Linked DNA regions of Homo sapiens: region 2 is linked to region 1. Evidence: fine-mapped expression QTL. Tissue or cell type: whole blood. Region 1 holds a variant in brackets; the other region holds the start of a gene. All regions are shown on one strand. Distances are between the middles of the regions.

Region 1 (6,078 bases):
AAAATATCTAGTTGCTCACCTATGCCGATGATGGTGAGGATGGGGGCCCAGGGTATGCATAGGAAGGCAGTGGTGACTTCTACATTGAATTGTACCCTATATGCATACAGTTGAGAGTAAGAATATTCAGCATCCCTTTCTTTTTTTTTTTTTTTGAGGAACTGCAGACTGTGGTTTACATATACATGAGAGTGCTGTTCACAGGAAAAATATTGCTTAGTTGCTTCTGCAATAAAAATAATAAGTTGCAGCATTATTGCATCAAAAAAAAAAAGAATGTGCTTGACTTCTCAGAGAACGAAATGCATGGCAACTGTAAGAATCGTAGTGTCATCCACCTGATAGTTGTCCTGAAAGAGCTGCACAAAGCACAGATGACGATGGCACAGTTGCAAACAGCAGACTTCTTTCTCTTCTCCCATCACCCAACTTTTTCAGTAACAATTTTAGATGGACAACTGAAGTGCTTGCACATTTTTTCAGAGGGAGCCTAGTGTACCAAACATCCTCAGGAGCTGTTGACTCTTTTCCCTTGGCTAAAAGTAACTGAAAACAAAATTTTAAGTTATAGCCCTTCTGTGTCTGTACGGTGCAGGCAGAGTGGGGTGGCAGAGAAGAAGTGTGTTGCAGTGGAAGTAGCTCTGACTTCAGATCATGTAGAAAGGAGAGCTTTAAATTTTTCAGTTGCATTTGACATCGTCACAACCATGCTTCCAGCTCCTCCCCCTCCGCAATGTGAGGAAAGATTGTTTTATTCTCATTTAACAGAAGCCAGAACCAAAGCATAGGTAAGCTAAGAATTTGCCAGAGATCATACAGGGGGTGGATGGGAAAACAGCACATAAAACCTGAGTCTCCTGGTTCTAGCCCCACCCACACCTACCCCCAGCTCCATTAGGCTGGCCATACGATAAAGTGTCATCTGGCTTCACCAAACACAGACCAAAAGCTAGAAGATGAAGATGGGAGATTCCCACGTGCTCTGTAGGAATCACTCAGAACTCCCCGCTCCTACTCCAGGCCTGAAGTTCTGGCACATTCCCACTTGAGAATGTTCCTGACCCCTTAAGACTTACCTCAAGTACCACCCATACAATAAGACTTTTCTGACCTATTCCTATCCTCAAATAATTGGCGACTTCCTCTGTAGAGCCAGATTATACCTTAAACACAGGGCCATTTTTGTGCCTGTAACTTTTTCACATACCTCAGGGCTTGGGTCTGGCTGTTACTCATATTCTTGAGCCTAACACGGTGCTTGTCTCATAGTAGACACTCAATGTCTGTGTGCTGAATGAAAATATGACCTGAACTTTATTCCTTAGAGGTGCAAACCAAAGGCAAGCTCAGCATGGAAAATCCTTGGGAAGTCATGTACCCTCTCTAGGCTTCAGTGTCCTCATCTGTAGAAATGAGGAGAGTAAGAAAACAATAACTCTGAAGGATTACTGTATGTAAGGTTATTGGCAAGGTGCCTGTCTCACAGTAAGCTCTTGATAGGTAGTGGCTATTTTTGGTGGCCAGTCTCCGAGGTGGGCCCAGTGACTCTGACCTCCTGGTATTCATGCCCTTGTATATAGTCCCCTCCTACACTGAATAGGACTGATCTATGTGACCAATAAGATATTGGAGAATTGCCTGAGTGTGACTTCTGAGACTAGGTTGCAAAAATTACTGAGGCTTCTGTCTTGCTCTCTTTTGGATCACTTGATCTGGGGAGAGCCAGACACCAGACACCATGTTGTGAGGACACTTCAGCAGCCCTATGGAGAAGTCCAGATGGTGAGGAGCTGGGCTTCTTGCCAGCATGAGGTGATCATCCAAGTGAGCCATCTTGTAGACTGATTCTCCAGCCCCAGTCAAGCTTTCAGATGACTGCAGTCCTGGCGATTTCTTGACTGCAACTTCAAGAGAGCCAGTTAAGCCACTCCTGAAATCTTGACTTATAGGGACTATATGAGATAAATGTTTATTGTGGATTTAAGCTGCAAAATTTGGGGGGTAACTTGTTACGGAGAAATACGTAATTAATACATGCTTATTGTAAATGGCTGTACAAATATCAATGGAGTCACCTCCTACATGGTCAGTTCCGGTTCTTGACTGATCTCTGTTCACAGGGGCTACAGGGCAAGATGACTGGTTTAACCAAATCAGGACTTCCCCTTCCCCAGATATGAAGAGGTAACTAAAGAGGACATTCTCAGCAACTTAGTATTTTCAGATCCTCACCTGACCTGAGGAAGGTGAGAATGTCTGTCATCTTGGTGCTATCTGCCACATCAGACAAACTTTCAGAGAATATCACAGGACACCAAGTCAGATAATCTCCTCTTACTTGTGTCCTGTATGTAGGTCATCTCTTAACATAGAGGGACAAGTCTTGCCCCAAGAGCTAATCTTGGGGTCCCTTCTCTGTTCCTCACCCCCAGCAGCTGGCAAACTGTCCACATGAATCCCTGGCATGAATCCACCTTCCCAAGCCTTTCACATCACAAAACTGATGAAAATGGTAACATTTTTAAAGTAGCCAATATTTGACAAAGTTTTGAGAGAAACCCTTGGTTTTTCAGGCTACACATGCCTTGGCGATATTCACAGCTTGGGTGATGGGCACAGAGACATTTGGCTTCAAGTTCTCACACAGTTGTGTTACTGTAACTCCAAACCCCCAGTCCCGTGCATTCCCCAGCGATCCTTGCTATCTCCCTAGAGTTTTGGCCGCTGCTTCTGGGGTGTTCCATTTCTCAACAATTGCTGTCATTCTTTCCTCCTGTCCTCAGTTCTCCTGCAGTCCCTGATCTGCTCTGTTCCTGTCAAAACTAAAGGTATTGGATCTCAGCCCCACCCCAAGCAAATACAATTCCTTCAGGTAACTTTCAATTGTCTGACCCTTAAGTGACCACAGACTTTTAAGGCCCCTTGAGACAACCTCAATGTAGGAATCTACAAGTGCCCTGGGCAGAAAGACAGCTCTTTGTCATACACAAAAGCATCCCTTGACTAGGAAAAAAAGGTGTCTCAATATGGGGAATATGAACTATGTCCCTCCTTCACCTCAGAAGATGAATTCTCTGCCTGCTTGGGGCACTCCTTCCTTCTGAGTAGTTGACACAGGCCACGCCTCCTTTCTTTGTTCAAGAATCCCAAAGTTCCCACTATTTTTTCCCAAGGACTTTAAACACCAATAGTCATTAGTTCTATTATGGACAGTCTGCCTT[A/G]GCTCCCCCAAATTCCCAGAGGTGCAAATATATAGACGAGACCCCACCATGATGACCTCCTTGGATTTGAACTGGATACCAAATAGGACTGTGCACAAATCTGGCCTTGACCAATTCCATTCTGTTTGAACGATTTCTCACCATTCCTACCTACAACTCTAGTACCCCATAGGTCCGCCCAATCCAGCTGTGATGGGACCATGAGGGGACATGGTGATCCTAACCAGTAGACCATTCGAAGGTGTTGGTTTGAGAATCACCCAGCATCTGGCCTGACCCAGGCCTCACAGCAAAGCCCCTTGATTTGGTAGCCAGAGGTTGCTTTCACATCTTGACATCTTCACAGTCCCCTGAAAATGGTAGCCATTTCATTGAGTCCCTGGGTGTAGTGAGTCTAATGACCTGTGCTTTAAGCACTAAAGAATGCAGTGAGTTGATTTTTCAGACTCAGCAGAGAAAGCACTGGGTAAAGAGTGTGCTCTTGGAATTATTAAATAGAATAACTCACCTCTGCTTCAGTGAAGACTGTTCCTATTATAGTAAACAATTTATCTGACACTACACTCTTAAGGAAAAGTTATTTAAGTTCTCTCCTAGCACAATACCCTCCACATTGAGGGCAGCCAATTAAGGCTTCTGCTTTGGTTGTATTGCTGTTTCCTTGGGTGGGGAGACCACAAGTTTAACTTTTGCTTGAAGGACCTCTTCCAGTGGTTTTGTCAAAGCTGTGAATTTTATTACCTCAAGTGTGTCAAGGAAGAGGGGCTCCAAATTTAGCCTAGGGCAAAAGGAAAACACAGATCAACCTGTTGCCATTTTTCTTTCTTGTTAGAGAGAAGTACTCTGTTGCCCAGGCTGTACTCAAACTCCTGGGCTCAAGAGATCTGCCCGCCTCAGCTGCCTGTGTAGCTGGGACTATAGGCACCTGCCACCATGTCCGGCTGATTTTTTTTAACATTTTTTGTAGAGGTGGGGGTCTTGCTACGTTGCCCAGGCTGGTCTCGAACTCCTGGACTCAAACAATTCTTCCTCCTCAGCCTCCCAAGTAGGCGGGACTACAGGTGTGCCACGATCCTGCTGCCATTTTTATCCACTGGATTTCCACCTACATGATTACTGAGCCCCGCAGAGTCCAGGGGTTAAACTCCACTTCAGTTTTTTCACCAATAAAACTGACAAACTAATTCATCGCCAAACTTGATACTTAATCTCTGGTAAAGGAAAGATATGTTTCAGCACCAATACTCTTTATGTTAGCCATGCCCAAATTATATAAATACCCTCAATAGCTGCAAAATGCGGGGAAGAAAGCATTTGCTGATTTTTACTCTTCCCAAAGCAAATCCACAAGTACCTTAGCCAAATTGCCTGCAACGTCTTGTAATTTCATGGTGATTTTACTTTGGAAAAGAAAAAGGAGAAATAGAAGGTAAAGTCCTAGGAACTGGACTTTATCTTAATCATCTATCTCTTCTCACACTTGGAGTGACAGGAACAGAGAATGAGGATGGAAATGGTATGATTGATACACATACAAAATCTCACCCGTGGTTAAGACTTTCAGGGGAAATTTAGACCACAGCCTCGGCTTCCCAGTACTCGCTACCCTTTGGAGTAGTTCTGTTTTTAAAAATCAAAAACACAGCATTCGGAGGCTTCAGATAGAAATTATTACAAAAAAATTGACAGAATTTCTCTTCATCAAACGTGATGCTGTACAGCAAACTTAGTTTCTGTGGAGGACAGGCAATTTTAAGCTCGTGACTATTACAGAGATGAGGAGGGAGAGGGACTAAAAAGGGTCCTTGCTTAATAAAATGAAGCCAGCTGTGAAACATTCCCTGAGATTACAGGGGCCCTCCACAGTTATGCGTGCCTAAATCACCTCGAGTCTCTTCCTATCCCAATCCATCTGACACCTGTCTCCAGGCTAATCCTTCTAATCTGAACAGCTGCCTTGGAGACGTCATGCCTTGCCTTGCCTTCAGTGACTCCCCAAGGCCTCCAAAAATGTCAGTTACGCCCTGGCCTGGCCTTTATATTGTGCAAGAATCTGGCTGCCTCTGACATTTAATCTCCCTCTATTCCAACAGAAATCTGTCACTCCAGTGCCCACACCACTTTCTGTTTACCCACCTCCACATATTTACCTGTAATGGTCTCCATTTTCTTCATCTGGAATATCTCCCTCTAACCCCTTCTCAACCACCAACTTCAACATATGATGCAAAGAGTGTGATTTGGAATTAGAGAGATCTGGGTTAAATTCTAGCTCTACTACCTGCTTGCTGTGTGTTGTTGGGCAGGTGTCTCACCTTCTCTGAACATCAGGTTCCTCATCTATACACCAAATTCTCTATACACATCAGGTTCATGGTAGGTGCTCAGTAAAGGTTAACTCCTTTTTCCTGCATGTCTACCCAAGCTCCTAAATCAACTAATTTCTATCATATGGGCCATAGCATAGGTTTGCATGTGAGCATAAGGTTTATGTTCAGTGTTGCAGATTCACCTCTATTCATTAAAGGTGTCATAAAGGAATGGGCCAGGTCAGGAATATAGAGATCATAAGACCTTCTCAGGACAAAGCTCAGAGGCCGGGGCATAAGGGCTCATTCTCTGCCAATGGCACACTGAAATTTCAGCCTCAGGGGAGTGGAACCCAATAGGAGTACTTGGAAAATAGCCAAGCAGTTCACGGACGGGAAATTATAGCATTGCCATGACTCACTGTTAGACAGTTGAAGGAGTTCCTGAATAACAATTTTTTTTTGTAATTCCTAAGAAATTTACAAAAGATGCCAATTAGCAGATTCAGTTCCACGGCACTTGAAGCTTAATTAAAAAAAAAAAAAGC
Region 2 (6,078 bases), 130 kb after region 1:
AGTGAAGCTAAATCTGCCATTTCTGCCATTCGTGAAGATGAATATCAATACATTAAACTCTACACTCTTTTATTTTATAAGAATTTAGAATTTAGAATATCTTCACTCAGTGTGTGCCCAACTCTAAAGCTGTGAGGAATAATATCTGCTCTGATAGATCCTTGGTATAGTATTAAGCAAGAATAATGACACAAATTATAGGAGACTCATTCTGTTCTCTGTATTAACAAAATACAGTACTCTTCAGTGTTAATATATGACCCTTAAAAAATATATAACTGACACTGATTGACTCCTACTACTTGCCAAACATTATGTTAAGTGTTTTATGCCGATAGTTGTATTTAATTCTCACAACTCCATTATGTTGACGCAATTTTACATTTGGGGACACTGAGATTTAGAGCAGTTAAGTACCTGCCCCGAGGCCCATAAACAGTAGGCAACGAAGCTGAAATTCAAACCAAAAGTAGTACAACAACAGAGACTGTGCTCTACTCACTCTAATTTGACTCACATCCCAGCACACAGATCTACAGGACACACATCCTAACATAATTTAAAATGTGTATAAGAAATTGTAATTTAGTTATGTGTACAGTTTTGGCAGAAATTAACGAATAAAATACTGTGTGTCTCAAATTCTGGATCACTTCAAACTGGAATTCCCCCAATGATATCACAAAAGAGCCTCTGATGACCCCCAAATAATCACACACTGGAAGTTTCCACAAATGCCAACTCACTCTTTGGCGGTGAGTGAGTAAAGATAGATTGAGTGGTAGTGACTTCGATGAAACTAGTCGATGGCTTTTATTCTTCGGGTAGCTAAAATTCATTTCCCCCAGTATCCAAGAAATATTTTCACAGCAATGACTTAACAACTTAAATGGAAATATTGAATACACTTTTTTCTTTAAAAGAAAACTGCATATCCTCAGCTTCTTAATCTCAAGCCATAGTCATGCTAGCAGTGGGGCTGTTTTCTGAGCCACTGGCCTACCCACCTTGTGCTTTCCTTGTCTTTAATTTAATTGCCTTCCTTGTCTTTAACAAATGACTCTGCTGTCATTTGTTTCCTATTGTGTTGCATCTGATGCTTTTACTCAGTAAACAAAACTAGAATGTGTTCTGTGATGTTGTTTTAGTTGAGCACAAAATTCAATACATTATCAAGAGAAATGAAACTGAAAGGAGCAAGTCAAGATCGCAGACCTGCGTTTTCTTCTGGGGCCACAGTTGCTGATAAATGATGCAATAATGCCCTCGACAATCTATTCCAGCTACCTCTTGATCTGAAGATCTATGGAAATGGAGTAGTTAGGGGAGGTGGTAGGGTAGCAGTAAAACACTTTCAATTGTTATTAGAATAATTTTGCATCCGCAAGCTGGCAAACGCTATTCACGTCTCTTTACATTGCTCGTTTTATGATGCTCCTAAAGAAAATCCTTGAAAAAAGGAGAAGAAAAAAGAGGTCTGACTAATGGAACAAAAGCTACATCACAGTCTAGTTCTGTCATGTTTTCTCATCCTTAGTAAGATGATGGTTCAATTTTGAATAAAGATTAATTACTTGAATGTGGTTAAAGCATAGTCTAGCCAAATTAATTTTTAAAATGAGAGTCCAGCTATTTTTATCTTATTCTTCACATCCCAGGTGATTTCAATCAGTAAATTTCATAGCAGTGAATATTTTTAAAAAGTATGCTTGGCCATTGGCTTTTACCCATTCGGCATCTCTCTGAATTAAAGTATTAATATTGGGAAACATAACGAGTCTCTCGGAGTGACCTTGCTGACCTATTTTTGACAACATGATTTCGGCTCCCTCATGGCTTGCGATGATAGGTGCTGGTAACATTATCCTTTATGACTAATCTAATTGAAGCAAGTTAGACTTTTAAAAACTAGTTGTGTATGTTAGCTTGACTAGCTTGCTACGCCCTATTTGGTGCTTGGAAAACCAGGCACTGGGTGAATGCTTTTCAATTGCGTCTGTAACTTAGTTTTTCCCTCCTACTGACATAAATGATCCATCTTAATCCTCCCATTCTAGCTGCATATTGTTTTCCAAAACTAAAGCTATATGCCCCAAAACCTTTGCCTTCTATCATGTGGCAGATGACATCTTCCACTGACAGTGAATAATAAATTTACACTCAACCCGCATGGGGAACCTGAACACATAAGCTCCCCACATGCAGAACTATTTCCAAGTGACATTCCCTTCTCTCTTTCCCTTCTACTTCAGTGATGCAGAATAACCATCATATAACAATTAACAATCCTCCTTTAGGGGGATGCTGAATGGAAAGAAAAGAACAGGAGAAGGGCACCTCAATCCAGGTAACGTATTAACAAAAACCCCAGAGCAAACCACAGTCCTTAACAGACACCCTGATAAGGCTCCCAGGACACAGTACTGAGGAAGAGCAAATTCTCCAGTGGGACACATCTCACACGCCAGTGGCTCCTGGTTCTCCCAGCCACATGATCTGTGCCAAAATTCAGATTTAACGCAGTGTCCTCTTTAGTCCCAATGTAATTCTATTTCTAGTTTTGCCAGCCTTAGTTCTGCAAAGCATCAGTATTCTCTTACCAAAAAAAAGTATTAGCTGAAATTCTGGGCCATCTATCACTTATACCCTTTGGTTAAGGACTACTCCCAGTAAGGTATTTTCTGTTGAAGATGCCCACAGCAGTATCCACCCAGGAACCTTGAAAAGGAAGCAGAAATGATTGCATGGGTAACTTACCAGCTCCTGAGGTCTGAATGGCTGCAGCAGCCCCACTCCTTTACCTGATCCCTGCTCTCTCTGTCTCTCTCCCTCTCTCTCTCCCTCTTTCTCTTGTGTACAGATTGCAGGGAACTTAAAGAACTCGCAGGGACAGTGTTTCGAATGACTTAAGAAAGAGAACAGGAACAATACTTCGTTCTCTTTTTCTCAGATGAGTACCTTCGGGAAGAAGGAAGGAAGGGAGGGGAGAGGGAGGAAGTCAACAACCCTTTGCTTTCCTGAAAAAAAATAAGGAAACAGAAGATAGACATCTCATTTTCTCTTAAACAAAATGTTGGAAGGGGCAAAAAAAAAAAATCTTTGAAAAAAGGAATTCCTCAAATATGTTCTCTGCCCTGGGAGCTTTAAAGAGATGAAACGCCTTAGTGGCCTGTCCTGTCCAAACAAACGGTGTTCCAGACAGGCAGGCTCTCCTGAGCCTGCAGCCTCTGGTATCTGGTTTGCAGAACTGACACAGCCGAAAGGGAACAAATCATGTCATGTCGACTTAGAGCAAGGGAGAGCTTGGCCTGTTGTGCTAACCAAGGTAAACCTGCAGCCTGTAAGACAGTGTCGGGGCTGGGCAGCCAGGACTCCTGGCTTTTCTTAGGCCCTTTGAAACACCAGCATTGCTGCAATTCCTCGCTGACTCTAGATCCTTAGAGTTTTTCCAGGATCAAATAGCAGATTTATGCCCACCGAACTTTATACAGTGGACCCAATCCAGCTTCCATCACTGATGGATGAAAAAGGAAAAGAAGCAACTAACCACAACTGCTGCCGGCCATGGTTATCTCAGATCTGTTGTTTATATTATTCTATCCTCTACATTCCTAAGGCGTCTTGGATTTAATCACCTCTGGAAAACTGGAAGGAGATTTCTAATTTGTTTTCAAAATACTGTGAAGCAGCATAGGGTTTAGATAAATCAGCCATGGTGTTCGAAAAAAGATAGGGGAGGCAGGAGCAGTTAAAATGGAGGGAGTAACCTTTATCAAGGTAGAAGACTTGGGGCTTCAGCAGGCAGGCATGAGCTTGCTTAGGCTAGTTGCACTTAGGAATAAGCTTGGTTTTAACTTCTCTGATTTGTGTTATGTCTCTTGTGTCCCTTATTCATCTGGTTAGGACCATTTTCACTGTGAACAGGAACCAGCAGTTATGTAGACCTTTGTGGCAGCAAAAGAAAAACCAGCCTTACACTACTTCCTCATTTCACCCAACTGTGAAAAAAATGGGGTGGACAGATACACCTGATTGCAAAGAGTCATGAAAGTGAGTTCAGGGGAAGAATGATTCTGATTCAGTGACCCTGTAAGATTTTGATTGAGTCCTTATTGGCCTATAGGATTATGTTTTTATTCTGACAGATATTTTTCTATCATCTATCTGTCTATCTATCATCTATCTATCTATCTATCTATCTATCATCTATCTATCTAATCTATCCATATATCTATCTATCTCCCTGTCTATCTAGTTATCTGAATATGTGTGCATGTATCAGAGAGAGACATGAAGATTTTGTTACTCGGTAGGTGTGCACAAGCCAGAGCAGAGTCCCATTCCTTGCATCCGCCACAGCACCAACACTGGCACAACCCATGGCACTGAGTTCTGGCCTGGGTGACCCAGCCTCACCAACAGTGGGGAACACGGATGACCAGAGACAGTCTCTTTGGTTCGCTTAGAGCCACACGCCAACACGTTCCTGTCTCCTGATCCCGGCTCTCGGGCTCTTTGCCCTCTGCTGGCCTTCCTCTACATCCTGCCTTTGTAGAAATGGGAAGGGAAATGAAAATGAAAATCTGAGAAAGCCAGGGAAGGGCATGAGGGAATGGAGCAGGAAGGCCTAGGAATGGAGTCTTTTAAAGGGGGAGAAACACTGGGGCAAACCTTTGAGTAACCGGAGGTGAAACAAGCAGGCAGCTGAAATTCACAATAAAAAAGCAGACGTCCTTGGGAGTGAGGTGGGGTGAGGAGAAGCAATAGGGAGGGGGCAAGGTGTGCGGGGCATCAGCAGCAGAGGAAAGGAGGGACCCAAGGAACAAGACGCTCATGGTACCAACTCCTCACAGGCAGGAAACCGCCTCTGATCACTTGAAGAATCCATTGCAGCTGCACACAGGCCTTCCCATATTTTTACTCCTCTTTGCACCCTCAAGGCAAGGCCAGGGCTGAGCCCCAGGAGTCCAGGCAGAATCCAAAGGATTTCCCTTTTAAGTCTGCAGAATGTGGGGACTGTCACGTTGAGGCTGTGTTGTTGTCTCCAGGCCAGCTGACCCGCCCAGACAGCCTGGATGGGGACATGTGCCATTTCAGGCTGCACGGCTTTGACTGAATGGGGCAGCATCCAGTCGGGATCTGACATCATCCCCGCAGCCAGCCAGGGGACTCTCAAGGCTGCCTTGTGCCAAGCTGCTCCATGCTCACACCGCGTTGCAACCCTGCCTGTGAAATTCACAGAAAAGGCTTTTCCCTCTTTCCTTGTGCTGCCAGTCACCTGAACAGTCACCCTCTAAAACTTGTGAAACCACCCACTGGGTGTCAGGAGCAGAAATTCCTAACCCTCCCATTAGGTTTGGCAGGACAGATTTCTGATCAGTCCACTGGAGCTCTAACTCTGTCCTGGCCTATCTGGATCCTGACTAAAAGTGAAGGATCCAACTGAGACGCATGAGCAGGAATGGCATATGGCCTTGGCTCTCACCCCTCAGGAAAGCCCCATGTTGCACAGCGTATCATAGAGATCACTTGAGTAGAGAGAGGAGCTGCCCACCCCTGGGACGAGATAGGAGGACAGGAGAGAAACCTAGGTGAGGACAGTGCTGTGACCCTAACCCTCAGAACCAGCACCACAGAAATAGGTGCTCTACTCAAAATGGCGTCCTGCCTCTGAAGCGTCCTAATTTGTATGGCACCAGCTTCCAATGACACAGACTCTGGGGTTATCTGTTGACTCCCAGACTAACTTGACTTCAGGTCATGGAGGTAGCAGCGTAGGAGAAAATGGAGAAAGGTTTGGAATAGAACATATTCTTCAGAAAAGTACACAAAACGTAAGTGTACCGGTCAGGGAACTTCACAAAAGGAACATATCTGAGTAGCCAGCCCTCAGATTAAGAAAGAGGACAGAGGCCCCCCAAGCCCCTCCTGTCACTACCTCCTCTCAGGTGCCCTGACTTCCAGCACCTGACATGGATGCACATTACCTGGTTTTGAATTTACATGAAAATGGCATTGGCTTGCACTTCATTTGGTTTCTTTGCCTCGATAGTATATTCATGGGATTCGTCCCTATTG

Evidence for each region. PIP is the estimated chance that this variant, and not a neighbour inherited with it, causes the effect.
Region 2: ZNF366 starts here. The variant in region 1 is fine-mapped to the expression of ZNF366 in whole blood (TOPMed, PIP 0.96).

Annotation. Positions count from the first base shown.
Region 1 is chr5:72,372,917-72,378,994 of GRCh38, forward strand. It overlaps the pseudogene RPL10AP8. Among named protein-coding and RNA genes, the nearest start is that of PTCD2, 56 kb to the left of the region's middle. The variant A/G (reference allele first, on the strand shown) is at 3,222.
Region 2 is chr5:72,504,494-72,510,571 of GRCh38, forward strand. ZNF366 (zinc finger protein 366) reads right to left here and starts at 2,917. Exons shown (of 5, transcript NM_152625.3): 1 at 2,758-2,917.